4 separate regions of the Homo sapiens genome follow, and all the other regions are linked to region 1. The links come from fine-mapping of genetic effects on gene expression. A gene starts in region 1. Each other region holds a variant in brackets. All regions are shown on one strand. Distances are from middle to middle.

The links. PIP is the estimated chance that this variant, and not a neighbour inherited with it, causes the effect.
Region 2: its variant is fine-mapped to the expression of CDON in cerebellum (GTEx, PIP above 0.99). The same link has a PIP of 0.9 or more in cerebellar hemisphere.
Region 3: its variant is fine-mapped to the expression of CDON in whole blood (TOPMed, PIP above 0.99).
Region 4: its variant is fine-mapped to the expression of CDON in sun-exposed skin (GTEx, PIP 0.95).

What each region holds. Positions count from the first base shown.
Region 1 is chr11:126,058,881-126,066,764 of GRCh38, reverse strand. CDON (cell adhesion associated, oncogene regulated) reads left to right here and starts at 3,899. Exons shown (of 20, transcript NM_001378964.1): 1 at 3,899-4,186. RefSeq lists silencers at 3,312-3,401, 3,472-4,141 and an enhancer at 6,342-7,884.
Region 2 is chr11:125,972,712-125,980,595 of GRCh38, reverse strand. It overlaps CDON (cell adhesion associated, oncogene regulated), which reads left to right. Exons shown (of 20, transcript NM_001378964.1): 18 at 2,213-2,292. Among named protein-coding and RNA genes, the nearest start is that of VSIG10L2, 31 kb to the right of the region's middle. The variant A/G (reference allele first, on the strand shown) is at 4,198.
Region 3 is chr11:126,028,959-126,036,842 of GRCh38, reverse strand. All of the region lies in intron 1 of CDON (cell adhesion associated, oncogene regulated), which reads left to right. Among named protein-coding and RNA genes, the nearest start is that of CDON, 30 kb to the left of the region's middle. The variant AGTTG/G (reference allele first, on the strand shown) is at 4,581.
Region 4 is chr11:125,998,834-126,006,717 of GRCh38, reverse strand. CDON (cell adhesion associated, oncogene regulated) reads left to right here. Exons shown (of 20, transcript NM_001378964.1): 9 at 661-959; 10 at 2,642-2,816; 11 at 4,868-4,999. Among named protein-coding and RNA genes, the nearest start is that of VSIG10L2, 57 kb to the right of the region's middle. The variant C/T (reference allele first, on the strand shown) is at 3,511.

The DNA of each region.
Region 1 (7,884 bases):
GGAGTGCAGTGATGGGATCTCGGCTCACTGCAAGCTCCGCCTCCTGGGTTCATGCCATTCTCCTGCCTCAGCCTCCCGAGTAGCTGGGACTGTAGGCACCCACCATCACGCCTGGCTGATTGTTTGTATTTTTAGTACAGACGGGGTTTCACCATGTCAGCCAGGATGGTCTTGATCTCCTGACCTCATGATCTGCCCGCCTCGGCCTCTCAAAGTGCTGGGATTACAGGTGTGAGCCACCGCGCCCGGCCTTGGAGAACCAATTTTAACATGTATTGAGTATTATAAAAGCACCCACTTCAGGCCTGGAATGTATTAAATGTCACTTAGTATCTAACAACCTTCCCACCTCATCCCTGAGGACTTGAGTACTTGGCTCATGGTATTTCATTTATCAGCCTCTCAGTTCCTTCAATATGTCCCCTGACGGCATAAATCATCCACATCGTCCACCAGCACCGGTAAACATACTAGATCTAATCATTACTTGGAACTGTTCTACTTCTGAAATGGTAAACTCTGGTTATTACCAAAGACTTCTTGGTTCTTTCTTACTCAATCCTGTAACAACAGCTCTTTAATGTCATACATATCTCCTTTTCTTTAATTTGTAATTTTTCCAGTCTATTATTCTTCTCAAACCTCTTACACCTTTTCCACTGCCTGGATTCTATGATTGCTGTTTTAAAAATTTTCTTACCAATACCGTGTGTTATTTTCCTTCTTGTACAACTTCCAGAAAAACTTCAAAATTGGGTTGGTGTTATGCTTTTCCCCTTCTACCTGACTGATTAAATTTTGATGGAGAAAACCACATAATCATGCAAGCTCCATCACCATACATTAATGGTCTCCAACCTCAGCCAGGCCCTCAGCATCACTTATCAATTCTCTGAGTGATTTTCTACTTTCATTTTTCAACTCTCATTTTTCCTAATGACTATTCCAAACCTTCACCACCTTCTTCAAGCATCCTTTTCAAGTCCCATACCTTGAGTTCAGTAAACAGCCTTTGCTCCAAATTCATCAAGATAATTGGGGGCTTTAGTTATTGGAGTTTTAGAGATCCATCCTTGGCTACAACTTTCTGGTTCCATATTATTCCTGAGAGATCGCTTCCACTTTAATGGTATAAACACTACTTTATGCTGATGACGTTTAAATCCGTATTTCCACTTGGAGTTCTCTACATAGTGGACATCTGTGGTTGGAGGCCCCATAGTGTCTTAGTCTGTTTCTGCTGCTATAACAAAATGCCTTAGATTGGGTACTCTTTAAGCAACAGAAATTTATTTCTCATAGTTATGGAGGTTGGGAAATCCAAGATCAAGGTGCCTGCAGATTCAGGGTCTGGTAAGTGCCTACTCCTTACAGATGATGACCTCTCTGTGTCCTCCCACGGCAGAAGGGACAGAAGGGGCTAGCTAGCTCCTTGAAGCCCTTTTATAAGGTCATGAATCTTGCTCATGAGGGTGGTCCTCATGACTTAGTCAGCTTCTAAAGTCTCCACCTCTTAATACTATCACCTCTTAATACTATCACCTCTTAATACTATCACCTCTTAATACTATCACCTCTTAATACTATCACCTCTTAATACTATCACCTCTTAATACTATCACCTCTTAATACTATCACCTCTTAATACTATCACCTCTTAATACTATCACCTCTTAATACTATCACCTCTTAATACTATCACCTCTTAATACTATCACCTCTTAATACTATACTCAATACTATACTGACCTTGTGTTCACACAGCTCCCTGTTCATTGCACTGAAGATGTCTCCTTGTACTTACCCACGTGTGTGTCTGTATCACAGTTAGACTGTGAGCTCTTTGAAGCTTGGGACTGCACATTGTTTCTTAATGTTGAACAAATGGATGAATGATTCATTAATGAAAAACTGTTTTACACCTGAAATGATTTCTCTGCTTTACAAAAAAAGGGGGAGAGGAAGTAATTAATATCAACAAACATTGTGATTTTTTTCTTAGTCTGACTATGAGTAACAGTAGGCATAGTGAATTCAAATGGCACTGTGAGATCTGGAGGTGCACAAAGTGCATTATGTCCCAGGAGAAGAACCTGGAATTCTCTGTAGCCACAATAAATTTGCAAGACTTCTATTAACATCCACACAAAACTCTCATTTCAGTTAAATCCTCTATAGAAAGACTTACTTGCCGAATGAAAAATCGTTTACCATAGCTTGTTAATAACATATAGATTCTTGGTCTCCAAAAGTGAACAATAGAACAGTGGAGGACAAACTAGAGTTAAGAGTTTTTTTCTGGCTGGGTGTGGTGGCTCACGCCTGTAATCCCAGCACTTTGGGAGGCCAAGGCGGGAGAATCATCTGAGGTCAGGAGTTCAAGACCAACCTGGCCAACATGGCAAAACCCCGTTTCTACTGAAAATACAAAAATTAGCCGGGTGTGGTGGCACGTGCTGTAATCCCAGCTACTTGGGAGGCTGAGGCAGGAGAATCGCTTGCACTCGGGAGGCGGAGGTTGCAGTGAGCCAAGATCGCACCATTGCACTCCAGCCTGGGCAACAAGAGCACCCCAGCCTGGGCGACAGAGTGAGACTCCGTCTTAAGAAAAAAAATTGTGTTTTTTTTTTCCGTCCTGTACTGACTTTCTTTCCAGGGGCTTTACAAAAACCCTGAATCTAGCTAATGCAGAAAGCTAACCTGCTTGAACAATACCACACTTTCAAAGCATTTCTTTTTAAAATTCACGTAAGAAGGTAAGGGAGGACTGGCATATTTCTCCTGAAGTTCAGTACTGAGTATTTATAAACTTAACTATTATTAGGGATCCTTTTGTAGTTAAGCTAATAGTAAGTAATGATGATGGGGAAAAAAAAGAGCTAACTGCTAATAATAACAATTTATAAAGAAGTTACAGTCCTTGAATGCCCACTGAGTGGCAGGTGCTTTTCACAAAGTATCGTATTTACGCTTCACAGCAACATTTTGAATAGAAATTTATTTTTCCTTTTTCTGTTTGAACAACTGAAGTTCATTGAGTTCAGATAACTTGGGGCAGGTCCAACGGACGAGTTGGAAAGACTCTGGGGCCAAAGGCTCACACCACGCCTCTCCTAGCCCCTGAGTTTTGCTACCTGCTTGCGTTTATGTGCAGGCAGGGCGGGTGGGTGGTGGTGGGGGAATCAGATGAAGCTGCCTAAGGAATTAAACATGGAAAGTGGTGGAAAGGCGAAGGAGGTATAAGCGGTGGGCCGCTGGAACCCTAAGAGAGACCAGGCAAGAACCGGGAGAAGGGATGCACCCGTTGGCGGCTCAGAGAACTTAGGTAGAGGCGAGGGGCGGGGCGGGGCGAGGGGCGGGGCCTGAACGAGGCTAGGGCGGGGCCCGAACGAGGCTAGGGCGGGGCCCGAACGAGGCTAGGGCGGGGCCTCGGGGGACAGAGTCGACCATTTGGAGACCTGCCAGAAGAGCCGTCTCTCCAAGGGAATGAAAGGTGAGGGGAGCGTGAGTGCAGGCATGATGGGAATCTCCGTGACTTGGTAAGGCAACTCACCCTTACCTGTCCTACACCCAAGAAAAGCCTCTTCTATGCTCCCCTGGGGTATCTCTCTTGCAGAGTAGGCAGGTCAATGACGAGGAGAGGGTCCTGCCCAGAGCGTGCCCCCCTCCGTCACTTGGTACGGCCCGTGCCCCCGCCGCTGATCTGGCAGGCTGCGCGCGCACACTCCGGCCGGGTGCGGGCCGGCGGGGCACAGCGGCCTCTACGGCCCGCCTCCGTCAGTCATTCCCCGGTCCCTCCTCCCGCTGCTCGCGTGCTCCGGGCCGGCCCAGCACCCTCCGAGTTACGTGCCCGCGCTCCCCGGCGGGGAGGAGCGCAGCCGCGGGGGCGCGCCCCGGTGACTCCGCCCCTCAGCTCCCCTCCCCTGAGCCCGGGAGCCCGGCTCGCGCGGCTAGGTGCGAGGAGACCCGGGACCCCACGCCCGCCCGCCCTGCCCAGCGCCCCAGCCCCGGCGTGCGAGGCGCCGCTCCCTCCTCTGCCCTGCGCGGTGCATGGAGGGGCCCGTTCGGATCGCAGCCGCCGCCACCGTAGCCGCCGCCGCGCGCGCGCGGGGGGATGACCTGGGGGTGGCTTTCCGAGCCGGCTGCAGCGCAGGAGGTCTGGAGGCTTAGCCAGCCCCGCGGAGAGGTGCGGGGGTGGGGGTCCCGCCGCAGGGTCGGAGGGAGGGGTGGCGCGCGGGCACTGGGCTTGGGGGGCCTTGGCTTAGGGGACGGGAGGTCCCGGGGACGGGCGGGCCGGCGTTCCCTGGAGGGCGTGGGGGTGCAGGGCTGCGTGCGGGGTCTGGATGCTGATGCTTGCCCGGCGGGGAGCCCCGGCGTTCCGCGTCCTCGGGGGCTCGGAGGCACCTCGCGGGAGGAGGCGGGGTGAGGTGTCAGTGACACGACGAAACCTCTTCTTGACGATGGTCCTCGGGGGCAGGTGAGATGCCGCAGAGCGGGGAGCTAGGGCGCCCGCGCGTTTTCCCAAGGGAGCCGGGTCCCTGGCCTCTCTCAATCTCCATCCCTGCAGAGCGCCCGCGAGAGACAGTGATTTATGTGTAGGGAGAAGCAAGAGAAATTTCCTGCACAATGTATCTTTCTCTGCCTTCACAAGACTCACTGACTTCCCAGCCCCAGGGAGTGTATTTTTCCTTCTCCTCTGTAAAGCTTTCTGTGGATTGCATTATCATTTGCTAAATACATTACAGCTCGCTATTTATTTCAGTCGGCAGCTTCCAGACCTTTGTTGCTTTCTCTCCACATCTAGGAATTTCAGCAATAAATCACTGAGGGGGATAGATAGACTCTCTTGCCCTTCCCTTCATTGTTCTCCCTAACCCCACCAAATCAGGTGGAAGGCTCTCCAAAAGGAGCTGTTTCCAGAATGCCTGCCCTTCCTCATCAGGACGACAGAGGGTGGCAGGTGCTTTAAGGGCAGACTGCTTTCCAGTGGGAATCCAGAATTTAGAGAACCTCATCAACAGAAAGTCAGCCTTTGTGTCCCAAACCAGACACCTTGAAAAACAGGAGGTTGGACTAAAAGCTCACATGAGATTTATTTTCAGGCCTATGCCAGTAAAGATGAAAGACGCCAAGTCAGTGAATTCTGATTCCTTTCGGCGCTGATAACATAACCCTCAAATTCCCAACTGACACTTGGCATACCTAGTGGACAGTGTCTCCAAGGAGAGGAAGGTGGGGAGGGTGTTAGAAAATGAAATGAGTTTATTGTCAGCATAATTCTAAACATTCTATGACATTTTGTAGTTCTCCCCCACCCTCAGTCTATTTTTAGCTGAAAATTTGGGGATAGTTCAACTTTTAAGATAAGATGAAAGAAAACCTTCAAAAAATTTTCTGGAAATTTTAAATTAGTGCTTAACTAGAAAGCATTCTTTGGAACCCGAGAAGCACCAAATACTGCAGTCTCTGTTATGCACATGTTGGAATGAACTGCCTCATACTTGAAGTTATATGAGAAGGATGGAGAAAACCTGTTTCATTTTGTAAAGACGTGCCCTGGGTGTGTGTTTGGCAGTGTGTAGAACAGAAACATTTATATTTCTATTAAGAAACACACAAATGTATACTGTTTAACTTTCATGCAAAAACTTCCCAGTGTTTGGGAAATCTGTCTTTGTTTGAATAGTTTAGTCAGCCAGGAGAATCAGTTACTAGAGGTACTGTGCTGTTGTTTGTGTAATAACTCACTTGGGATGCTTTGATTGATTGCCATGGTTCTCATCAGCCTCCTCTTCTGTGCAAAGTACTTAAACAGCTCTGACTCTCAAGCCTTCAAGTACAAAGAACCCTTAGGACTTGGATACTGATCTAGCTTGTGTAGCTTGGCTTCTAAATCTAGCTTACGCCTTGCTTTCTTTGCAGGTGGTTTGACTTTGCAGGAAAAGAATTAAGTTCACTTTAAGATAGGACTTTCTCCTCCAGATCGTCAGGGTATATACAGCTGAAGGCAGTAGGTAGGAATAGGAACTAATGTCCTAGGGCTTTGTTCTAAAGAGAGCAGGTAAAAATTTGTTGACTATTTCTTGGGCTTGCTTCTTATTTTCCCACTTCGCCCATCTGCCTTCATGACTTTGTAGACAATTTCATGTATGGTTTTGTCGAAATGTAAGTTGAAGTAAAATTTTCCTTCTGTAGAATTTTTTTTTTTCCACGAACGTTTAGACTAAAAATTGGTGATTGTTTCGAAGTTAAATACTAGGGAAATGATTTCAGGAATTAAATATTATCGTAGTAAAAATCAGGGAAGCGTTAGAAAATAAATAATGAGTTGAAAAATGTGTTGCTTTAACGTGTAATGATATGAGCCAGCGCCTTGTGATCAGCTATGGCATGATGTAGAAGTATGGGTAAGACAATACAGTGGAGCTGTAGATGAGCTGCGTACATGGTAGCCCCCCTTTAAGTAAATGAACTTAATACAAACTAATTAGATTAGAAACAGAATTTGGAGTATGGTTGCCAAATATTTTGAGTTGAAGGACTTGCTTTTTTACAGTATTTTTTAATGGGGAATTTTTTCAAGAAATTTCGTGAACTTGAATTTGAGAATGTTTTATTTTTACTTAAATTTTTATATTGTATGTAATCATTCCATGTGATAAGTTTTTGTTGTGTATTTGGCACTAACTCACTTTCAACAGCACAGGGGAGGGCTTTACTTGATTCTTTTTTGTTAAAAAGAAGGGATGGTGTATGGAATATTCTTAATGTCACTTGAAAAATATTGGATTACAATTAAATGAAAAACTGGTTTCTTGGTTTTTTTTTTTTTAATCCTTCAAGTTTTCCCTCATTGCTTGTGCTCTTTCCCCCATTGTCAGGCTTAAAACATACAGTATCATTGTCATCTGTCTCCTGAATAATGGTCCTGAGGTGATATTATTAATGTGGCTTTTTAAAATCAAGCTAATTATACTTGCCTAAAAGAGCCACATGTGTGTGATTCTAGCTGCCTGGTGCCTTTTGAGAGCCCTGGAGACAAGCTAGTGAATAGAGCTGAAAATTCATTCTGTATTTGATTAAATGGAACAGACTCGCTGCTCCTTACCCCAGCGGGGGCTATGAGATCTCTTGATCCCCGAAGCGGCTCCAAGACCCTGGGAATTCCATTAGCGAGCACCTGAGGAATTTCTGCCCTGCAGTGCCTTTTTTGTATGTGTGTATGTGTGTGTGTGCAGAGGGAGTGGAGCAGAGCGGGGATTGGGGGGATGCGGGCAGGGGGGGTTGAGGGGGTGGAGGGAAGGCTACATTAGAAGACTCCATATGTTGGCAGATCTAAAATCAAGGCATGACTTAACAGCTTATCTTGTAAGAGAAAAGCCCAACCCAAAGGCAGATTGCTAGTCCGGACTTTATTACAAGCAGGACTACAGTGATGTGTTTTCAGCACTGAAGTGAACTCCAGTGTAAGTACAGAAAGTGGCTTCTCTGCTTTCCCTCCGAAGCACAAGCATATACACGTTGCAGACTTGGTAAGTTTTCTTTGAATGATCTTTTGATAAATATGTAAAATTATCTTACTGTTTGGTCTTGCCTGTAAAGGCTGATGTATCGTTTTAATAACTTTCAAACTGAGAGCAAAATCAGACTTCATGTGAAACAAATGGTTTTGCAGTGATGAAATGCTTGTTTTAATAGGCATATTTTAGTTTACTATTGATAGAATTTGATTGTTTCTGTTACATTATTATTATTATAGAATTCTAATTTAGATTATGTCTTTTCTGTTGTCTTTTTAAGAATTGTATCATTTCTAGTGTTTCTGAGGCATTACTTTGCAGACTTGCTAGCAGCGCCAAGTAAATGAAAATCTATCTGCCAAAA
Region 2 (7,884 bases), 86 kb after region 1:
GACACTTACAGTCGTCATGGACTGAGGGCGCAGTGTTGCCAAATTTTCTGATTTTTCAAAACCTCTGTAAATCCAAGTGAAATTGACAGATTTTTACATGCTGGCACCTAATTCAAATTTTTGAAAACATACGTAGGCCATGCCAAACATCTCTGCAGGCCACCGGGTTGTGACTTCTGACCTTTCATGGGCTTCTTTTGTTTGTTTTGCCCAATATGTTTTGTTGTTGTGGCTGGTAAGCTTTTTACATTTTACAATGTTAGTATTCTTTAGCCACACAAAGAGTGATAAACCCTTAAGACAACCTTATTTCAGAGATAACTAGTTGATAGCGTTTAATTTTTGAAATGGTAGTAGAATGACTAGCATATTTTAGACTTACGTGGGGTTCTCTGCACTAGAAAGTTTGATTTATGACATTGTTTGGATGCACATCTATATTACTTTTGATCAAATAGATAATTTGTTTAATTGATGGAATTAAGCATTCAGTTTTTGTCATTGTTCTGATTACAAATAAATTTACCATGACCCACAATGTGCTACAATTTGAAGAAGCTTAGAGTTTTTTTTCCCCCCATCTTCAGTTTATTAAAGATTTATTAAAATCTATTTGGAGAACAAAACTAATATATACTCATATTTTAAAGCTAGAAATTGAATAGCTTTTATGTGACCTAGCTTTTGTATGTTGTGGAAGAAATATTAATTTGCTTTAATGCATCTCATTACTAAAAGAGAATCATGATTTCACTATTTTGTGTGGAAAGATACAGCATGTATTCAGACTTTCTAAGCTTTTTTGGTCACCATTCCTAGTCCAAACTACTACCATTGTCCAAGAAAACTGAAGGAGAGAGCATTAACATTTGAATAGCACACACTGTTTCCATAAGAAGAAAACATAAGGCCCATGTTCGCTTTAGTGTTTGAACACGGAACCTTGGGTTTTTTGAACAATGAATTTCTATTTAAATAATAGGTGCCCCATTTGGTGTACAATGTCAGAAGTTATCTGTGATTCTAAATTATTCGTTTTCTTACTTTTCTGGGTGGGGGAAATAGAGAAATTTTAACAGTGTTAGTGACCCTAAAAATCATTGCACTAACTTCAACGTGTTGAGGGATTCAGAGAATCCGTAAGTCACAACGTTACCCTGCAGGTTGTGAACTTCATTTTCTGAGCCTTTCAGGTTTTCCCTCAGATGGAATATAGTATAGGAGAGTTCTTTCTCTCGATATGTTCTTAATAATTCCTGTTGCTGGTTGGATCAGAAACACTGAAGGAAATTTTCAGGACTTTTGGTTTGCTTAGATTCTGGCTACTGTTATGAAATGAATGGAAATGGAAAGTATTCTAGGAAAAACAATTGCCTGAACTTTTCCTAACCTTGAAGGCCTGCTTTGGGTTTGGGTGCAGTGTGACAGCCTCTCCCACCTTTTATCAAATTCAGTTCTGCTGTTTTTCTTCTGAAAGCAGAATTCTGCCTCTGACTATCAGGCTAGTTTAATTTTTAACTTCATTTTTGAAGAACCTTGCTGTCTGTCAAGTGAACATTTTACAATGAGGTATGTGTTAATCTGGGCATTTTTCTTAATTGCTGGGCAGTTTCCGCCAAAAGCAACATCCAAATATTAACACACCCCCTCCAAGTCATTGCTGGCTGAAGATCTACTCCATCTGGAAAAATATAGCATGCTTTAAAACTTAGCGTTGTCAAGTGAACAGACCTAATTGAAATAATTACAGGAAAATGAAGATGAGTTTATCATGTGACATCATCTACACAGGTTTTACACCCTGTTTCTCCAACTGGTATCACATGAAATTCTTCCCTGACTGCCAAGAAAGGGAAAATGAATGGAGGCTATAACATATAATGTATTTTGAGCCCACTAGATTTGAAGGGAAGTGACTAAACTTTTCCCTTCATTTATTTACCTTTGTCTAGTACAGAAATACGTAGGAAAACATGGCAGTGAAGTTTTTGGAATACAGTTAAATCTAATGCAGAACTCTCATTCACTCCTTTGTGAATATGGGTCAGTGATATTCACAATGACGTTGCTCTGGGAGTTGGTTAGAATATACTGTGTGCCCATTTATGGTTGACATGGCTCATGTGTATTTGTGATTATTTGGCTACTGGTCTGTGAGTACCTTCAGCATTCCTTCTTCTTTTCTTTTTCTCTGACACTCCTTCCTGTCCAGGGTGGTGGAATGTACACGGCCGTGCCTCAGATTGACCCTCTGGAGTGTGTTAACTGCCGAAATTGTCGAAACAACAATAGGTATGTTAATAATGTGTCTGCACAAGCTGTTGTGAATAAGGCATATGCATCCTTTTATTTTTCCCTTCAGCAAAGAAAGTTCTTGGAATTTTACCTAGGATATAAAGTTCAGGATTTGCAATCTTAAATTTAAAGCTGTTACTAATTTTTTGCCTCTGCTTTCCAATTTTTGTCTTTTTGTGCCTCGGTTTCTTCAGCTATATAGAAACCATCTTAAAGGCTCTATTTGTCACTGAAATATTATTATAAGGCTTAATGTTTTTGAAAATTTTAAATTAGAGTCATTCTCTGTTATAAAGACTTTATCTTTTCTCACCTTTTATTTTCTACTCTATGTTATGGGATGTTATGAGGATGAATGACAGTGTTTCTGAGTGTTGGGGGGAGGGGGGAACCCTCTGTATATAGTAATTTTTTTCACAGTAATGTTACTGAAATTTTCCTACCAGATTATCCAGTGTTTTTTTTTAATTCTTAAAATCTTAAGAAAATTAAGCAGCAAACCCTTGCTTTGAATTTTGTGTTTTAATTTTAAAAGTGGTATGTACTCACAATATTTCAAACAAGATAGAAATATGGAGAGCAATGTGCATTTAACACATAGGATACTCGGCACACTTTCCTACGACCTCTCTCTATGGTAATCCCAAGGATTACCAAGCTTTTTGTTGTATTAAAGTTGTTTCAGAAATCTTAGTTCTTTCTTTTACATAATGATGTTATTGAATTACATGGTGTCAAAAGTCCTTCCTTCTCAGTCCTAAAACTCTACAACCAAAAAGATTATGTCATAGTTAGTACATAAAATAACTGGAGTATGGGTGGGAGTTTAGATATTTTATTATTGAAATGATGTTTGACCTATATATTTAAAATGGATTAACAGGTTAAGAGTTGTCTCTGGGAGTTATTGAAACCAGAACTTGAAGAAGGATCAGGCCAACCATCAAATTAAAAATACGTTGTTCCAGCCTGTGTTTTGAGAGTTGCAGAACAAAAGCAACAGAGCTTCTTGGAGATTGTTTGTTATCATTTACTTAACCCATTTCAGGGTGTCTATAAAAGAGCCATCTGCTTCTTTTATGTACTAAGGTTTGCTTGTTACGTATTTAAATTCTATATGACCCTGGTTTTGCAAATGTTCATAACATTGAAACCACATTTTTGTCTTGAGCTTTTCATGGACTTTACCGTAGTTTGTTAGGCAACGTGCTAAAGACCTGGTAAAGGTGGTTCATGTACCTGGCGAGTAATCAGACGGATTTAGTTACAAGTGGTCTTGCTTAAAATTTTAACGTGTTTTCTTTTGTGGTTCTTGGTCATCAGCAGATCTTGGTTCTCCTGGACAATAGAATGGTATAACGACAGGATCTCTGGTCTAAGAATAAGTAGACCTGGGCTGTGACATAGCTTAAACCTGTGATCTTGCGAAAGTAACGTAATGTTTCTGAAGCTATTTCCTTAACTAAAAAGGGGAAAATTGTCCTAGGTAATGTAAGATTGCTCCCAACATAATCTGACGGTAGTCTCTGGCAATTTCCTGCCAATCATGTCTTTTTGATGAAGTATCATCTTAATATCAAGAATGCATCCCATTTCCTTAGAAGGACTTATATGACCTCTGCCATTTAAATGACCTTGGCTTTGTGGCTATTTGTATGTGTAGTGTGTGTGTGTGTGTGTGTTTGTGTGTGTGTGTGCATGTGTGTGTATGTAGTATTTTAGTATTTTCAAGTTTTTATTATACAGTTTTTTTTTCCTTTAAGACAATGAACAATTGTATTTCTATTAATTTTCAAGTTAATGACTTACTACATTTCATGTGTGTGGGTTTTACTGTTATCTGGGAATTTAGGTGAATTCTCTTCAGCTTGGAACACCAGATTCTTTTTCTTCCTGGTTTCA[A/G]TTTTCTTCCTCATGAGAATCTGCCTGTTTAGTGCAAGTCTTTACTTGCCTGCATTGCCTTCAAGGTTAGCCAGTGTCTCACCTGGCTCCCAGGAGCAACTGTATGATTTTGACACTCAATAATTGGACAGATAAGTATCAATAAGTACCTACCTTCAGCTCTAGAAAATTTGAATTATTAAATTTAAAGATTTTAAGTCTTTTCACTTTGGAATTGAGAACAGGTATCTCCTCTTAAGATCTTACAAATGACAAAATTTGTAAAAAGCTGTGAATGCCGAAAGGTAGATGATACGTGGTTTACTCTCAAAATATAGAAAATTATAGTCAATTTATGCTTTTAGAATATCGACATTGTTACTATGAATGAGTTTGCATTTCTGAATATCAGCTGAAATAGTGTAAACATAAAAAGAAGCGTGATTTCAGTTAAGTTATATGAGGGCTATCAAGTGGGCCTCATATGATTTTTGGCTGTTCAGTCAAACAAAACAAAACAAACATTTACTGAGCACTACCCAGGCTCTGGACTAGGTTCTGAGGTGTTTCCCCGTAGAAGGAATGTAAGAACAGTCATGGACGTAGAAAGGATAATGTTTACATAAGAATGAATAGGCGACTTCAGTGGTTCTCAAACTTTAGCGTGCATCACTTGAAACACTTAATAAAAACGCACATTACTAGGCTCTACTCCCACTCCTATTCTTAGACCAGAGTTTCCCATTCAGCAGGTCTAGGGTGGGGCCTGAGAATTTGCATTTCTAATGAGTTCGCAGATGGTACTGATGCCCATGGTCCTGGGACCATGCTTTGAGAACCGCTGGAATAATTTGATCGGCTGTGAAGTGCAACTAGAGAATAGTAGGATATTGAAATTGGACAACTGGACTGAGTTTATATAGTGGATAACCCTGAATGTGAAGGTTTAGTAGTTTATTTAATAAACAAGTCCTATTACTTAATAATAGTCCTATTAAATATTATTTATTAAATAAGCAAGTTTATTTAATAAACAAGGCCTTTTATTGAGTGCCTGTCATGTACTGGGTACTGGCCTAGGCCCTGCCTTCAGAGAGTCCATAGTCTAACAATAGTGATTCTCAGACAGAGGTAGGGATATAGTGAGTAGAGTTTGAAGAAGCACGTTGAGTTTTATAATTTTATATTTAAAGAATAGAAAAAAATCTCTATGTCTGTAATGTCTATGTATACAAGGGTATGCAATTTTTATATTAATCAAAAGGGGATATGCGTTAAATGTTGAGAAACACTGGGGTAGCAGCATCATAATTGTTGCAAAGCTTATTGAGAACAGGAATGATCTGTTCAGAGATATGCTCAGGCTGGATGAAAGATGGCAGTGCACAGGAGGGAAGGGAGGGAGGGGATCAGTGAGACATGGGGAATGGGGATGAAGAGGAAGGGATGAGTGAGACTGCAGACATGGAGTCTTCAGGACTTGGCCATTGACTGACAGGGATCTAGAAAAACAGAAGATTCCAGATGTGTAAGAAGTTTCAAACATGGATGATCTGGGTGGTAGTCATAGTAATAAGAAACTTAATAAAATGATACATCATAAAAAGGTGATAAATTTGGTTTTAGAGTTGAAGTATGAGTTGATATCTTAAGGAGAAAGATGAAAATGCTGGTCTTGGCTTCAGGGGGTAGAATGGAACTGTGATACAGATTTAGGACCATTTTAAGTTCTATCCAAGTAATAGAACTTAAAAACAGATGAGACACCAAAGGAGACAATATCCTTGGCAGATTGATTATTTTTATATATTTAATTATTTGATGCATTTATTTGCTTTTATTATGTATTTAAAGTGATTAGACATTCTTTTTATAAGACATCATATCTTTTGTTATTTTTTCTTACTGCCTTAATACATCTTCAGAGAATAACAGAGATGGGAAAAGGAGAATGATAAAATAAGGAGAGTAAAAAAGAAAAAAAGAATTCCCTCCCTCCCTCCCTCCCTCCCTCCCTCCCTCCCTCCCTTCCTTCCTTCCTTCCTTCCTTCCTACCTACCTACCTACCTACCTACCTACAAATGTTTGCTGCAGGTCTCTAGTGAGCCAAGCACCAAACTAGGTACTGGGGATATGGCAGTGAGCATAACAGGCATTGCTCCTGCCTGCGTGGAGCTTAGAGTTTAATAGGGGAGACATATCTTTTAAGAAAATGACATAAATCGGCGGGGTGCAGTGGCTCACGCCTGTAATCCCAGCACTTTGGGAGGCTATGGCGGGCGGATCACCTGAGGTCAGGAGTTTGAGACCAACCTGGCCAATGTGGTGAAACCCCATCTCTACTAAAAATACAAAAATTAGCTGGGCATGGTGGCAAGTGTCTGTAATCCCAGCTACACCGGAGGATGAAGCAGAAGAATCACTTGAACCCGGGAGGCAGAGGTTGCAATGAGCCAAGATCACGCCACTGCACTCCAGGCTGGGCAACAAGAGCGAAACTCTGTCTCAAAAGAAAAAAAAAATGACATAAATAATAAAAATGAATATGTAATTAAATCTGGATGCTTTAAAGGAAAAGTAAAGAATGTGGGAGAGAGGAAAGCCCTCTGTAAGCAAGTGGCATTTTGCTGAGCTCTGAAGATTTATAAAATTAGGTCTAAGGGAAGGAAATAAGTTTAGAGCTTTCCAGGCAAAGGGGACCATTTATACACAATCTCTAAAACAGAATGCCTGAATCCTCAAAGAACTTAAAGAAGGCCAACATAGCAGAAACCTAGTAACTGGAGGAGTCAGAATTAAAAGGCGAGTGAAATCAGATCACACAGAGCCATGGCACATCTGTGGATGGTTTTAAGCAGGAATTCGTTTTTGTTTTTGTTTTTGTTTTCTGAGATGGAGTCTCACTCTGTTGCCCAGGCTGGAGTGCAGTGGCACGATCTTGGCTCACTGCAACCTCCACCTCCCGGGTTCAAGCAATTCTCTGCCTCAGCCTCCCAAGTAGCTGGGATTACAGGTGCCCGCCACCACGCCCGGCTAATTTTTTGCATTTTTAGTAGAGACGGGGTTTCACCATGTCAGTCAGGCTGATCTTGAACTCCTAACCTCATGATCCACCCGTCTTGGCCTCCCAAAGTGCTGGGATTACAGGCATGAGCCACCATGCCCAGCTGAATTTGGGTTTTTAAAGAACACTCTGGATGCAGTTTGGAGACTAAATTGGATGGGGCAGGAGAGGATACCTGGAGACCAGTTAGATGGCAGTTGCAGTAGTCCAGATGAGAAACAGTAGACTAGCATAGTTGTAGGGAGAGAAAGAGAAGAATTTTGAGAGAATTAGGATTTAGAAGGAGATGAGTCTGAATGAGTCTGAGGGATTTAAAAAAAAAAAAAAAAAAAAAAAAGACCAAGTAATTGGTTGAAGAGGCCAGTGGAGGAAGCAGTTGAAGATGATGTCTAGGTGTCTGGGCGCAGTCACTGAGGCAGAGAACACTGCAGGAGATGAAGAGGAGCTGCCCCACAGTATACTTCTGGAGAGTTGTCCTCTGAGATCTGGTGGTGCCTCTGCAATTCGCCTTCTTTATTCCACAGATACTGAGAACTGGAGAAGTCTTGCATGGGGCCTTTTCCGTACGGACTCTTACCTGCTCTGTGCCCTGCCACTCCAGGTTCTTTTTTCTCTGCCTTCTCAGTTGTAAACTTAAGCATATT
Region 3 (7,884 bases), 30 kb after region 1:
ATGGCTTGCGCCTGTGGTGCCAGCCACTTGGGAGGTTAAGGTGAGAGGATCACTTAAGCCCAGGAGGCAGAGGTTGCAGTGAGCCATGATTGCACCACTGCACTCCAGTCCGGGCAGCAGAGCGAGACCCTGTCTCAAAAAAACAACATGAGTAAAGTTGTACGTTTTAAGAAAACTCACTAAAAACAAAAGAAACCCTCATGTTGTGCACAGAAGTCCACAATGACAAGTCCTTCAAAGAAGAGTGAGGCCTACAAGGGTATATACAGGTAGAAATGTATTCTATAAACATAGGGTCTGTTATTGTTTGACTATGAAATATGAGTATAGTATAATACAAAAGCCTTAAGAACTATGCCAAGACTTATACATGAGAATTGTTTCTTTAAAGAAGCCAGTTACCTTGGGAAACTGCATATTTAATCTCTTGTTACTCTTGTTGTGCCAAGAAATTTGGAGTCCTTTTAAAATTACCTTTATTGCTTGTGGTACATTAAAGAAAGTGTTTGATGTTCTTGATTTTTTGGAAATTGATTTTTTGGAAATAGTCATTAATGAATAAATTGGGTCATAATGTTGGAGTTAAGACTATATGTGTTTAAAAATCAGATGTAATCATAATGAGAATATTCATGCCTGCTTTATACATTGATACCAAAAATAATTAATAAGGGATTATGTTTTGCACAGAGAAGCATCATTGGAATAAGTTTTATCTGGGTTCCAGGTTGGGTCTATCTGCGGCTGTGTTTTTTTAGTAGTATGTATACATATGTGTGTATTTATATGTGTGTGTATGTACCTTTTCTGTATCAGTGTCTGTGAATTATTTCTTTGACCATCCTGCCAGTGTTGTGTTACAATCTGGCCACTGCCGCTTCGTGCATGTGTGGCCTAGCAGAGTTGTTCCAACAAACTTTGCTTTATTTTTGATAGTCAGGCCGGACCTGATGCCAAAGGCCACTTCTCGGGCTTTTCTGCTTGGACTAAAACTTCATGCTATGTTGTGTTATGTTTACAAAGATATTGTGATCCTAATTGATTTGTTTTTCTATTTTCTAGTTTCATCAGGGCATTGTATCCTGATGGTTACTTTGGTTTTAACTGCCTGGCACTGATTTTGAGTTTTCAAGGGTGCAGGTTTTCCTGACATAGGCCAATTTGTGTTTTTACTTAATTTTAGACTTGTCAGTCAATTGGTGCCAATTATGTACTAACTGCATAGTAATCTGTGATTGACTTGTATGTCAGCTTATGAATGTGCTTGAAGAACCCCTTTATCAATGCACAGCCTCTCTTCCATGGTAGGATGACAGCTTTGATGAAGCTGTGTCTGACCTAATTCCCATTACCAGTTTGAACAAAGCAGGGGCTGATAAGAAATCTAGATTTCTTCCATTATTTTATGTGGCCAAGTTTAAAGATGGAATAAGGTACTTGGAAACTAGTATTAATATGTTCTAGGTCTCTAGGAAACTCGTAACTTGACGGTAAGATAATGTAAAAGTCATTGTGGCAGAGACCCAGTGTTCAGCCAGCGTTGATTCAAGTTTATTTGCAGCAAAGATCCTTTTCCAAGATTTGTTTTTTTCTTATCTGCCTTTTCAATGCTTGACTGTGTATATTTGAATAATGTACTTCATGGAAATGAGTTTCTCCTTGAGGATTTTTTCCTTGTTATTAAAATGGAATCTAAGCCAAACCCCATGAGGGTGAGTCTTTTGTAACTGCCAGGGAAACTCTTATACTTAGGTTAGTCCAGTGCATAAGTCAGTAGGGTCTAAGCAAAGCGCTGGACCTGTTAACAACTACGTTAATTATATTACCTAACACCTATATGGGGCACTTTTTCAAATGTTTCCATATTCCTCCTGCTCATCCTCCAGCAGAAGTTAGTCAAATGTGTGTCTACATCTTTGCAATAGCTAGTTCTTAGCAAACTTAGCTTTTAGCATTTGTTTTGTGGTTACCATAACGGTTATTTTTTCCCATAAAGCCAATTCCAGTGACAAACTTGAAAAGCTACCAAGTGCTGGATTTGTGGAAGTGTTGACTCCATGGGACTTGCAAAATAATCCCCTTGAAATTTTCTATATTTTGTCTTTTTAATAATCTCTCTCACGCTGCTTTTTAGAATTTCACCATTTGTATGCAGCTATGCTTTTAAATATTTATAATGCTCCTGTACAACCCACTGTGGATGCCAGGATTATCTTCACAATTCTTGGCTTCCTGTGCTCTAGTGGCAGGAAGAAATAGTCTCTTAGAAAGAGAGTGGAACAGGAACACTTGACTTTTTTTTTTAAACACACAAATATTGTGAATAGAACCTAACTGAGCTTTTGCCCCCTCTCCTTTGGTGTAATTAGGACCACATTGATTCCTGTTGCAGCTGGCAGCCCCTCACTGTTGCCTTTTTCTGCGTGTGACCCTTGATCTCAGTGACCTTTCCTGGGGTTCGTCCTGGGCCCTTTTCATTGTGTTGGAGCTGAAGAGGCTCATGTGGAGTTGATTATTTCTTTGCTCATTTGGCCTTTTTGGTGCCATAACTCCAAGTCACTTCCATTTTCTTCCTCTACTTTTGGCAGTCCACGGTGAAAGGAAATGCTTTCGCAGGCAGCAGGATCGTTTGTATGCTTGGCTGACTCGACTGAGACTTGGGAGAAGTGGGGGAAGGGTTGCGAAGTCTGTAGGTGTGAACTTTTTTTTTTTTAAGTTGATCTGAATGATTGCACGATCATTAATAAGTGCTTATAAAGTAAGTACTGTGGAAAGCTGCATTTCACACCCAGGGGCTTCATCCTGGCAGGAAGAGAGCACTCCCAGTGATTGGCAGGGGGCCTTGGTGTCTGAGATCCTGCAACTTTACTTTGATGAGATTTATATGTTCCTCCTATGGACTGGGAGTGATGCGGCAGGTCAGAAGATACATCATTGTTAATTGCACATGACTGCTTTAAGAAATTCTTAAGTTTCTAAAAGAACCCCCATACGCCCCAGAGAGTAGCATGCTATTAGATAGTATGTTTGTTGCGACTAGACTTGTAGCACTCTGTTTGCCTCTCCTTTCCTCCTGTAGAATCATGGAAGATGTATGCCAGCTGTTACTCTCATTTTGGGAGAACCCCTGTGGACAGCATGAAGACCGTCCCTAATCAAAGCCTTTAGTAAGCATGAAGGAATGTGTCTGATTACCCTACACTGTAGTACCTTGGAAAGGTATAACAGTGTGAAATGTGAAATTAAATCACATTAAGAAACTCATTTTTAAAGTCTGACTGTTTGACTCCATCCCTGGAATATCATTTCTGTCTTTTCCTTTTTTTTGCTTTAAAACTTTTTCATTAGTAGTATTGATAGTGTGGTTTATTTTGAATGAGGAGTTTCTGTCCCTTCAAGCATGATAGTTTTGGGATTCAGCCTGAGCCATAGTTCCGTGTGTCTGCTGTTGCCCACCAGAGTGTCATCTGCGACCCAAATCTCTTAAGAGCTTCAGGCTTCTTTCTGCTTGCCTGCCCAACCTTCCTTAGAACCCCACTTACCTCCAGCTCCTCTTGTTATCTCCACACCTTCAGACGCTCTCCATTCCCTCTACCACCTCAAACAGCAGCAGCAGACCACAGAAGACCCTGCTGCTCCCATCTCAGTAAATGCACATCATCCACTCACTCACTTGTCTGAGTCAGAAGTCTGGACAGCAGCCTCGATTCCTTATTTACAGTCACAGCAGTGGGGAAATAGAGCAGTGGACAGATGAATGGATTCCAAAGATGTCCTAGGTCCTAGTGGTCTATTCTTTTCCAGTCCAACTCATTCATTATCAAAGTCCTGTTGATCACAGGGCCTCACTCTGTCACCCAGGCTAGGAGTACAGTGGTGCGATCATAGCTCACTGCAGCCTCAACCTCCTGGGCTCCAGGGATCCTCCCACCTCATCCTCCCAAGTAGCTGGGACTACAGGTGTGCACCACCACACCTGGATAATTTTTGTATTTTTGGTAGAGATGGGATCTCCCTATGTTGCCCAGGCTGGTCTTGGAATTTCTGTGCTCAAGTGATCCACCCACCTTGGCCTCCCAAAGTGCTGGGATTATAGGTGTATGCCACCGCTCCTGGCCTCTTACGTCTTTTAAATATGACCGTGTCTTAAAAATTTTTGAAAAACCTTTCAAATTTATCCCGTGATATTTCTCCAGTACAGGTCCCCGTATCTCTCACCATAGCCTTCTAACTTCTCTTATCCTCAACTGTTTTCCACATTGCAGTGTCAGCGATTTTTCAAAGGTACGGGACTGATCATGTCCTTGCCTGCTTAAAAGCCTTTGACACCCTCCTCTCAGAATAAAAGCCAAACACTTTAATATGATTTATATTGTTCTTTACACTCTTGTTTCTGCTCATTTATGTTGCTTTCCCCTCACTGTGTCTTATCCTTCTCTTCTTACTGTATTTTCCAGCCCAGACATCCTTACTCTGATTCTACAAACACACTGTTCCTTCTGCTTGAGATACTTCCTTCCTTCTCTTCCTCCCTTCCTCTACTCCATCCCCCAAACGTATCCCTCTGATTTCACCTAGTC[AGTTG/G]TTTCCTCTGAGAAGTCTTCACCTCTCCAAGTACAAATCTAGGTTAAGTGAGCCTTCTCTTTTTCCTGGAGCACCTGTATTTGCTTTATTCTGTTGCTTACCTGTCCCTTTCTCATGTAACTGCTTTAATCTCTGAAAACCTTTATTTCCTAAAAATTCTGCCTTTTAGTGTAAAGCATGTCTATTGCTTTTCATGGAAAGAGTCATGATATGTTCTGTCCCAATCCAAGATAGCCAGATTTCACAGATAGAAAAACATGTCAATGGAGCAGTGAAAGCACATTTGTAGAGATGGTAAAAGATACTTTAAAAGTAAATAAATCCAGTTTGTTCTTAAATAAAATGCACTGAGTTTATTATGCTTGTCAAAGGAGGAAGAGAAGCCTTGAGGCTGGTGAAAGAGGAATGGTGAGCAATTCCTTCACGGGTGGTGTAGAGTCAGGAAATGGATTTTTGGACACTGGAAGTCATCTTAAGGCTCGTAGTTACCTCGCATTCAAACTGCACTTAGAAAATAAAAGCACTTAAAATCACCTTATGGCAAAACAAAAGCTCAACACAAGAGTGTTTCACAACTCGCGGAAATGGTGCACACACACTGCAGACAGAAGATTAGTAGAATCTCACTAATTAGTGGAATCTCACAGAAGATCAGGAGAATGCCCACTGTCCTCCCCCTCAGTTGGCATCTGAACACAAAGCACAATGTTTGAGGTCATCCAAACACAGCAAGCAATTCACTTTTTTCTACGTGACGTGGTGTAAAGTCTAAAAACTGTGGTATTATATAAATTGGTGTGTGCAGCTTTGCCTGAAGCTATAATATCACTTTTTAGAGTGTTTTCTTTAGTTTCTGATTGGAAAAGTTGTACTGAATAAAACGAAGCTGTATTTTAAAAAAAGTGAAATAACTTTCTAAGAGCCATTATTGCAAAAAGTTGCTATCTGAGCCATTCCCATGTTAGACGAGTCTGTATTTTAATTGCTTCCTTACTTGTCACATGTCCTCACCTGGTTGTAAGCCTCATGTGGGCAGACACTGTGTCTCTTTTATTCATGGTTGAGTTTCCAGGATAGCTCAGTGCCTGGTATATAGTAAGCATGCACCAAGTATTTACTGAATAAAAGATGAATTCCTCTGCTTTGAACTCTTTCAATACTTTTTACTCTCTTATTGCATTTAAGACTTTTTTCTTTATTCTGGAGATAATTATGTTCGTGCCCTTCTTAGTTGAGCAGTTTCCTTTAGTTTGGTATATCTTTGCACCCCTCATAGGTTCTTGCCCAAAGTAGATGTTCTATGTATTAAATGGTTTGATTGAATGAATACTTACTTGAAAAGCAGAGTTATTTGAGAAGTTTGTGTAGGAAATGATGTTAACTTCTTAGTTAAATTAAATATTCAGAATGAAGAAAACTGACAGGAGATTTAAAGTTGCCTGTGGTTAAGGTCAAGGTAGCCCAATGGGTTAAAAAACAGTATATACTATATTTGACTTCCATAATTGAAATTGGACTGCACTAATCTTGATAGTACTTAATGAAGAATTTTTAAGTAGACATGTTTTAGTTTTTCTTTGTAGTTCTGAAAATAATTTTTTCTTAGCTGATCAATAGCATATTTTGAGATAGATTGTTTGAAAATCGAGATGAATCATTGTTTTAAAAAAGGAAATTACCATGTTTCATACAGAATAAGATTCTTTTTAAAAAACGGAATCTAACTTAAATAATTTCCTATTTTGAAGAACTATAACTGATCTCAAAGCCAAGTTTTTGTTCACAAATTAATCACAGTTATTTCCTAAGCTTGAAAGAAAACTACAAGAAAGTTTGAAATAGGAGGCTAGGAAGAGGAATGATTCAGAAAGACAGCCTTCATCATCCTTATGAAAGCAAAGGCGTTGCTTCAAAAACAAAGTAATCAAATCTAGAAATTCAGGAAAGACTTTTCCCAAAGGATTATTCTGGCAGCATGTTGAAAAGGGGTTATAAAAGCAATAAGTTCACAACCTGAACAATAAGTTAAGTAAACGTTAGGAAAGTATTTCCTTTCTTATTCTAAGATGAGGTATACCTTTAGCTTCCCTCTGCCCACAGAAATGCTCTAAGCTTGGCATGGCATATAAAGTAGAGCTTATAGGACAGATTGCCTTCTATGTGGATGTGGGAGAAAGGCTTAAAGAAAGCCTTATAACTTAGGAAACACCAGCTGTTGTTTAGTGACATTTGGACTTTGGGAGCAGTACTTGTGCCACATGAGACTGGGGAGCCTCCAGAGATTTTTACAGCATTGAGCAATAAGTTGTCCTGCTTTGTAGATGGTTTAATGGTTTTACTACACTTAGCTGCATTTTGTGTGTTTGTGTGTGTGCATGTTCTACAATCTTTTTCCGGAGAGACTGTACTACCAGGCGCTTTCCTGAGAGCAAAGGGACCACTAAGCATCTTCTCAGACAAATCACCCACTCAGAATGTCGGTGAAAAGAATGGAATTGTGTTGGCCACTAGCTTTATATGAAGATGGGAAGGAGATGGAAGAACTTTCTCGTGGTCATGCTAATTCCATTTGAGACCACTGGGTTCGATGAGCCCGTCACTTCTGTTTTTCACATAAGGAATCAAATTCAAATTCTAACCTCTTCACTGATTTTATTACCTCTAGTAGATTAGGGAAATAGAGATACATATATATATATATATGTTACATGGACAAGAAAAGCAGTAAGAAAGGGAGAATACGGTTTTGAAATGAATGGCAATTTACTGTTTTGAATGTCAGCAAATATTCCCTTAGAGTGTCAGCAATTTTTGCATACAAATTTATTTTGAGAAACATGTGTAATGAGTTAAAACCACACGGTGTAATGACAGTAACTCCTTATTCTACTATATAATAGATTATGGGTAAAAAGCGAGATTTTGTGTCCACGTTGTTTTTTGTCATTGGAAGTTCAAGGATTGACAAGGTTTGATGAATATGGCCTGCAATGCCCATGCCTTACATTCTTTTTCCAGTTACTTTTATGTAACTTTAGAATATTGTTTAAAAAAATCCCTAATAGAGAGTGAAAGTTGCTTTATGCCTTAGCAAGTATTTTAGTTCATTACTCAAAGTCAAGATTCGTATCCACACTTTGCTTACCACAGTGTGAGGATCTAAACCATATGTCAGTGATGGGGAGTTACCTTCATGTGCCAATTTTGGTTGTGAGGGATGGGGTTGGCTATTGGGGGCCTCTTTTTGGAACACGACTTGACAATATGTATTAAGAGTCTTGAAAATGTTTGCACTCCCTG
Region 4 (7,884 bases), 60 kb after region 1:
TTTATCTTTTTAAATTTTTTTGAGAGGTGTAGTTGCAGGATCCCCTTGGGTAGAAGTTAGCTGGCCTGTTGCCCAGGCTGGAGTGCAGTGGCACGATCATGGCTCACTGCAGCCTCAACCTTCCCAGGCTCAGGTGATCCTCCCACCTCAGCCTCCCAAGTAGCTGGGACTACAGGTATGCGCCACCACGCCTGGGTAATTTTGGTGTTTTTTGTAGAGATGGGGTTTCACCATGTTGCCCAGGCTGGTCTTGAACTGCTGGGCTCAAGTGATTCCCCTGCCTCGGCCTCCCAAAGTTCTGGGATTACAGGTGTCAGCCACCATGCCTGGCCAACTTGAAATCTTCTGAGGTTAAACTGGCAAATGATTATTACTAAAAAGAATACTCTTAGAGAACAAGGAAAAAATAAGAACGTTTAACTGCTACACTATTGCATCATATAATTGGTTTTTCAAGTAATTCATTTGCTCCACCATGAGAAAAGATTGCAATTAGAGGTTAAACATTTCCATGAATTATAAATGGCAGTGTTACCCGTTTTAACTTCTGGGGCTCAAATTGTGCTAACAATACAAGTGAGGGCAGTCACGTCACAAACTGGGTAGAAGACAATGAAATGAGGAGTATCTTCAAGCTGTCTCCTCTCTCTCTCCCTGCAGTTCCTTTTGAAACAAATACAAAAGCAGAGACAGTCACACTTCCTGATGCTGCTCAGAATGATGACAGAAGTAAGAGAGATGGTTCAGAAACTGGGTTACTGAGCTCATTTCCGGTGAAGGTCCATCCCAGTGCAGTGGAATCAGCACCAGAGAAAAACGCCAGCGGCATCTCTGTTCCTGATGCCCCCATCATACTGAGCCCCCCACAGACCCACACACCAGACACGTACAACCTGGTGTGGAGGGCAGGCAAGGATGGTGGGCTGCCCATCAATGCTTACTTTGTGAAGTATCGAAAGGTAATGTCTTGTCGTTTATCATCTTTCTCGGCTCACACCTGAACGTTCTTTGTATAACATATACTGTTGCCTTTTCATTTGTAGAATGGCAGGAAACAGAACAAGAGTCTTCCAGACTGATGAGTTTGTCAGAGAGATCCCAGTCATGCTGGATTTACCAATCCTAGGAAAGCACTGAGAATGAAGTATAATTTCCCCCCAAATTGGAATTCTAGGAACCCAATGATGTCTTTACATGTGTATTCAAATGTTTTAGCCCTTCAACATAAAGCTCTATAACCACTTTTAAAACACAAATTCCTTCCCTCTCTAAGGTAGTAGAATACCATTTATGTAGCAAATAAAGCAGTTTCTTATTAAAAACAACTGTTTGAACAGAGTTTCTGGCATAATTTATGCCAATTGTTTGCATTTCAAGTTTTTTTTTGTTTGTTTGTTTGTTTTTTTTTTTTTTTTTGAGACAGGGTTTTGCTCTGTTACTCAGGCCACAGTGCAGTGGTGTGATCTCGTCTCACTGCAACTGCTGCCTCCCGGGTTCCAGCAGTTCTCGTGCCTTAGCCTCCCAAGTAGCTGGGATTGCAGGCATGCACTACCACACCTGGCTAATTTTTTTGTATTTTTAGTAGAGATGGGGTTTTGCCATATTAGCCAGACTGGTCTTGAACTCCTGACCTCAAGTGATCCACCACCTAATCCTCCCAAAGTGCTGGGATTACAGGCATGAGCCACTGTGCCCAGCTTCAAGTTGCCTTTTTAATTGTATTAAAGTCATACATTGTTAGGTCATTTTTGGTGGTAAACCTTGGGCCTCTCTCAGTTAACTCTTCAAATATCATTTTCCCCATGGGCTTGTGTTGGAGCAGAATGGAAAAGCTCCTCTCTGTTTAATGAGACCAGTACATGAATGAAATGGGAGGGATGCATTCCATATTTAAAATCATTTTCTTTGTCCAAGAAATTTTAGTATACATTGTTGAATGGTAATGTTTTTAATGACTAGGAAAAATAACATGATGATATTTTAATATGATGATATTTTAAGGTTTATGTACTATTTCCAACCTGATGAATGATTCTAGATAAAGAAGTTTTGCTAGTAATCTCATCTACCCTAATACCTCCATGCAATATTGTTTCTTGGTTCCATTAATCAAGAAACAACTGATTAGATCTTTTTATTTCCTCTAACACATATTGAACAGTGTCAAGACATGAAGCAAGAATGCTGGAAATATACATAATTATATAATTCATATACATATAACATAATATAATATTGTCTTAATTTACCATGTATCTATTATGTGTATTATATAATTACCAATGATACCTATTATTTTATACTTATTTTATTCTTCATTAGCCCAGGAAGAAAGAAGGCATTGTTTCCATTACAAGTAAAGGAAACAGAGTCTGGGAGGGCAGTAACTTGCTTGAGGCCACACATTAGTGGTCAGATGCAGAGCCAGGAGTCTTTCTACAGTGAGAATTGCAGCGTTCTTGCAGCAGATCTTCTATTTCTTAATATGAAGAAGTATTGTGTCTTTTTTACTTACCATGCTGTATTACTTCTTAAAACTCTTCTAGAATTAAATGAATCCTAGTTTTGATCAAATGTGACCGAAAGATTTCCTATCCTCCATCTCCTGCTTTTCTTTTCTGGTGTGTTTTCTCTTGGGCAGCTGGATGATGGGGTTGGCATGCTGGGAAGCTGGCACACGGTTCGAGTCCCAGGAAGTGAAAATGAGCTCCATTTAGCTGAGCTGGAGCCATCTAGTCTTTATGAAGTCTTGATGGTAGCAAGAAGCGCAGCAGGTGAAGGCCAACCTGCCATGCTTACCTTCCGAACCAGCAAAGGTGAGTGAGGGCTTCCTTTGGAGGAATGAGCTGGCTGCCCTGATGTCAATTTATTAGTGAGAATTATTAATTTATTTTTTTTGAGATGGAGTCTTGCTCTGTCACGCAGGCTGGAGTGCAGTAGCACAATCTCAGCTCACTGCAACCTCCGCCTCCCCGGTTCAAGCAGTTCTCCGGCCTCAGCCTCCCGAGTAGCTGTGACTACAGGTGCGTGCCACCATGCCCGGCTAATTTTTTGTATTTTTGGTAGAGACGGGGCTTCACAGTGTTAGCCAGGATGGTCTCGATCTCCTGACCTCGTGATCCGCCCACCTCAGCCTCCCAAAGTGCTGGGATTATAGGCGTGAGCCACTGTGCCCAACCAGAATTCTTTTGGATAGTAGAAATTCCTATATGTAAATTCACTAAACGACCCTATTATAGCCTCCCCCTTCCATTTTGGGGTCACATTTACGTGATTGTATTGTCCTATTCTATAGAATATTCCACAGATGTTTTTGAAAGCTTATGTTATACAAGGCAATGAGGATAGATGATATAGGGAAAATGAAGATGGTCAAAATGAGATCCATCCCGACAGAGCTTATACTTTGATAAGAAAGCTAAGATGTGTAACTTAATACCAACTACAAGACAGTATTCAGTTCAGCTAATATTTATTGAATGCCTTTTACATGTTAGGCAAGAAGCAAAA[C/T]AGACAAAACTTGTGGCCTTGTAGAGCTTACATTCTAGTTGAGAGAGACTTACACGTAAGTTATAAGTACATTAGAAGGTGTTAACAGAGATATAAGTTAGGGGGTGGATACAGGAAGTATATGGGGTAGGAGTTGTTAACAGTTTAAGCAGGTGGCCAGAAAAGTCCTCAATGAGCGGTCGACATCGGAGCAGAGACATGAAGGAGGGGAAGTAGAAAGCCACGTGTCTCCCTAGAGAAAGAACATTCCCAGCAGAGATGGCAAGTGCCAGGGCCCAAGGTTGGGTGTACATGGTGTTCACTAGGAACACGATGGGGCTGCTGTGATGGGAGCAACGTGGGTGAGGAGGCTGTAGGGGAGAGATCCCAGGGAACAACGGGGTGTCCACATCACACAGCACACCATCCACCTTGGGACGACTTTGATTTTACCTCTGAGTGAGCTGAGAAGAGCTGGAACATTTGAGCTGGCTGGAGTCTGGATAGTGTGGAGGTGGGCAGGATTGTAGGCAAAGAGACCAGAATATGCCAAGTACCACAGGAGATTTCCAAGGACAGTGCTGGGGAAGCACAGAGGAAGGATATTCTTTCTGCAGGGCGGCTTGTGAGGGAAGGCTTGATAAAAAAGATGCCATCGTGGCTTGGCTGTAAATGAACAAAGAGACGTTAGTGGGTAGAGAAGGGAACTGGGTGGAAGAGTATTTTAGTATGGCACTGTAACGAAAAGGAGGTATGAAGATTGAGAAGAAACCAACTAGTGGCTTTTGAAAAAGACCCTTTCATCTAATTACTAAGTCTGGCCAGAAAAATAACGAGTACTTTCTATCTTAAATGTATCTTGAGTTCATTTTCATAATCAGTCATTAGGTGTTCATGGAGTCTGACCTATAAATACTGAGTAATCATGCATTTCAGTTTTTAACAAATCAATTTCACTTTTTGCCTCTTGAAATATTAAAACAATGTGAGGCTTTTCCTTAGAAAACTTAGCAGAAGCTCTTTAATGGTGAGTTTTATAGCTTAGAATTAAGAAATATATACAGTAAAAAGAAAAATGGACTAATAGTTTGAACACTTAGTCATTTGGCTTTTTCACCTATTTTTTTGCATACGTAAAGTTAGAATGAAGAAAGACATTTTAGCTTTATTTTAAAGATACTAGAAAAAAACAAAGTAATTTTTGGTCAGTTCCTCAGATCAGCTAAGTATTTATGAAGTAGGTCTTACATTTAGATGCTGTGTCTGATAAGTTCATAAATTTATAACCACATACCAGGTAAGTTTCACAGTACTCTTTTTTTTCCACTTTACATACATATATGCTTATGTTACTGTATATGTTTATTTACCTTTCTAGAAAAAACAGCGTCATCAAAAAACACCCAGGCATCCTCTCCACCCGTGGGCATCCCTAAGTATCCCGTTGTTTCAGAGGCTGCAAACAACAATTTTGGAGTGGTACTTACAGATTCCTCTAGGCACAGTGGAGGTAAAAAGAAGAATATTTTATTGTTTCTTTACAAATATAACTGACCTGCTTCAGATTTTGGGAGGTGGGGTGGAATAGGGTGTTTGTTTATTTTCATATCTTACCATACAGTTCTTTTAGGTTCTATTTCAACAATTTTAATGTCCTATATTTAAACTTTAGCATCTCAGTATCATGATTAGTACTTAACTTCATTAACTCTGACTCAAAATGTTCTGGTACTAAGTTTTTAGAACTCAAGAAAGGAGTTTTGTGGCTAGGCACTGTGGGAGGCTGAGGTGGGCAGATCACTTGAGACTAGGAGTTTGAGACTAGCCTGGGCAACAGAGGGGGAGACCCTGTCTCTACTAAAAATTCAAAAAAATTAGCTGGGTGTGGTGGCACACACCTGTAGTCTCAGCTACTCAGGAGGCCAAGGTGGGAGGATCGCTTGAGTCTGAGAGGAAGATGTTGTAGTGAGCTGAGATCACACCACCGCACTCCAGCCTGGATGACAGAGTGAGACCTCAAAAAAAAAAAAAAAGAAAAAGGAAGGAGTTTTCTGTTTCTTCTCTGGTAAGAGAAGGACATTTATATTTTGAACTCTGAAAATCTCACTTTTCATGTGTGTGACTCATCAAAATGTATAGTGGTACCTGTGGTAAGTTATTTTACTGAAGGATTACATGTTACTTTTTATTTTTATTTTTTGCTATATCTAGTTAATCTTATGGTTTTTAAAGGTCTTAGCTGTATAATTTTCAAAAGACTTTTTTAGTATTTCAATTTCACACTTATATGAGCACTACACTTATAGCCAGGTGTGCTTTTTGTGATTGTCCTAAAACATCAGGCAGGACATCTAGGGAAGACTTAAAATTTCATTGCTAAGCTCTGAGAATTTTCAGACTTCTCTTCCATATTTTTACAGTTTTCCATGAATTGATGTCAGACAAAAGCAGGTTATAACACTTTGAACTCCCTCCGAAGCACCTCTGTATCTTCAATATCATGAATCTCTTTTACTTGAGTGCTCTTATCTTTGAGGCACGTTTCAGCTACCTTAAGCAGATTACGTATATGAGTATTAATTTCATGTGAATAAAAGTAATGTCTGAAAAAAACCTTACCATTTATTTTATACACCCTCTGGCAGATACTGTATAAAATGCTGGAACAGCAAAGATAAAATAATCCTTGCCTTTAAGAAGTTTACAATATAGGCCTAGCATGGTGGTGCACAGTGGCTCACGCCTGTAATGCTAGTGCTTTGGGAGGCTGAGACAGGAGGATCGCTTGAGTCCAGGAGTTTGAGAACTGCTTGAGCAACGTAGTGAGACCCAGTATCTACAAAAAATTTTAAAAGTAGCCATGTGTGGTGGGGTACACCTGTAGTCCTAGCTACTCAGGAGGCTGAGGCAGGCAGATCTCTTGAGCCCAGGAATTTGAGGCTGCAGTGAGCTATGATTGTTCCACTGCACTCCAGCCTGGGTGACAGAGTGAGATCCTGTTTCTATTTTTTTAAAAAAATTACAGTATAGTGGATGATATAAATACCTAAACCCATTAACAATATGTGGATAATATAGACAAACTGATAACAATTTTGATTGCTTATGCTCGAGATTATACCCTTGGTGTTATGGGTTCACGAGAAATATCTAAGTCAGTCACTCAGTGTAGACAAGGGTGAGTAGATAAGAGAGGCTTCTCTGCATCATAAGCTAAACTTCAAAGGAGAACGACGATACAGACAGATGAAACAGCAAAAGAGTTTCTAGCAAAGACATCTCGACAAGTGGCTGATATGTTCTATTATGTTTAGAGATTGAGAGGTTAGAGATTTTATTTAGTGTGACTGGTTACTGTGGGGAATGCCTTGTGTGATATGCTTCAAAGTTGAATCTTTCCTTGAAAGCTATAGTGAACCCCAAAGGATGTTAGAGAAGGAGAAGGGAGGAATAGCAAAAGAAAAGGCTAGAGAAATAAGGGGAGTGACAGTGTGGATGGAGGAAGGGGAGGACCTGTATGAGAGATTAAGGGAATGGAGTCCACACTGAATGAGAAGGAGAAAGATGATGGATTGGGTGTGGGCACCAGAAGACCATTTACCAAGATAAGTAGTAAGAGTTTTTAGGTGAAGATTATGGATTCAGTTTTGGAAATGATGAGTTTGGAGTTGTCCAAGAAGAAATAACCACAAGAAAAGATTTATTTAATATTCAAAACAACCTAATGAGGAACAGATTTCCACATCTGTTTTACAGATTAGGAAACTGACACATGAGGAGGTTAACCATGCACGATGCCTCAGATCGTCCAGAAAGTGGAGAAACGGCTTGCTACCCAAGTCCGCTTCTAACTCCAGTGCCGTCTTTCTTTTCTACCTTGTTAACAGTCACATGCTATTTCTTTTAGATATGGAAGGTATTATTTTCCGTGCAGACATTTTCCCCAATAACTTTCTTTTTCCTATTTGAACTGTGGTGTTTGGTGAGTTTTGATTTCAGACGAATCAACATAAGGAAGTTGTTTGGTTTTTCTAGTATTAAAAAAGATTCACTAACCATACTATTCATTCTGTTTTCATTGCTTTCTAACTTGAAAGGAATACAGTAAGTATCACTCAGCATTGCCTGCTTTGAATACATTCCTCTTTTATCCCTTAAGCAATTTATTTTTTTTAAATGCTACAGTTTTCTCCATACAAATACCACATTCAACTTTATTTTCTTCTTTCGTATGTATTTGTATGGTGGGTTGAAGACATGTTGAGGTGGAAGGGTGTTGCTCAATTGAGGAGCATGGCATGGGCTAGAGATGGGGCTCCCTAGTGGCTTTCTCAAAGTAACTAGCGTCACCATGGCCCAGAGTTGGCCCTCCACATTCCAGCTCTAGAAACTTGA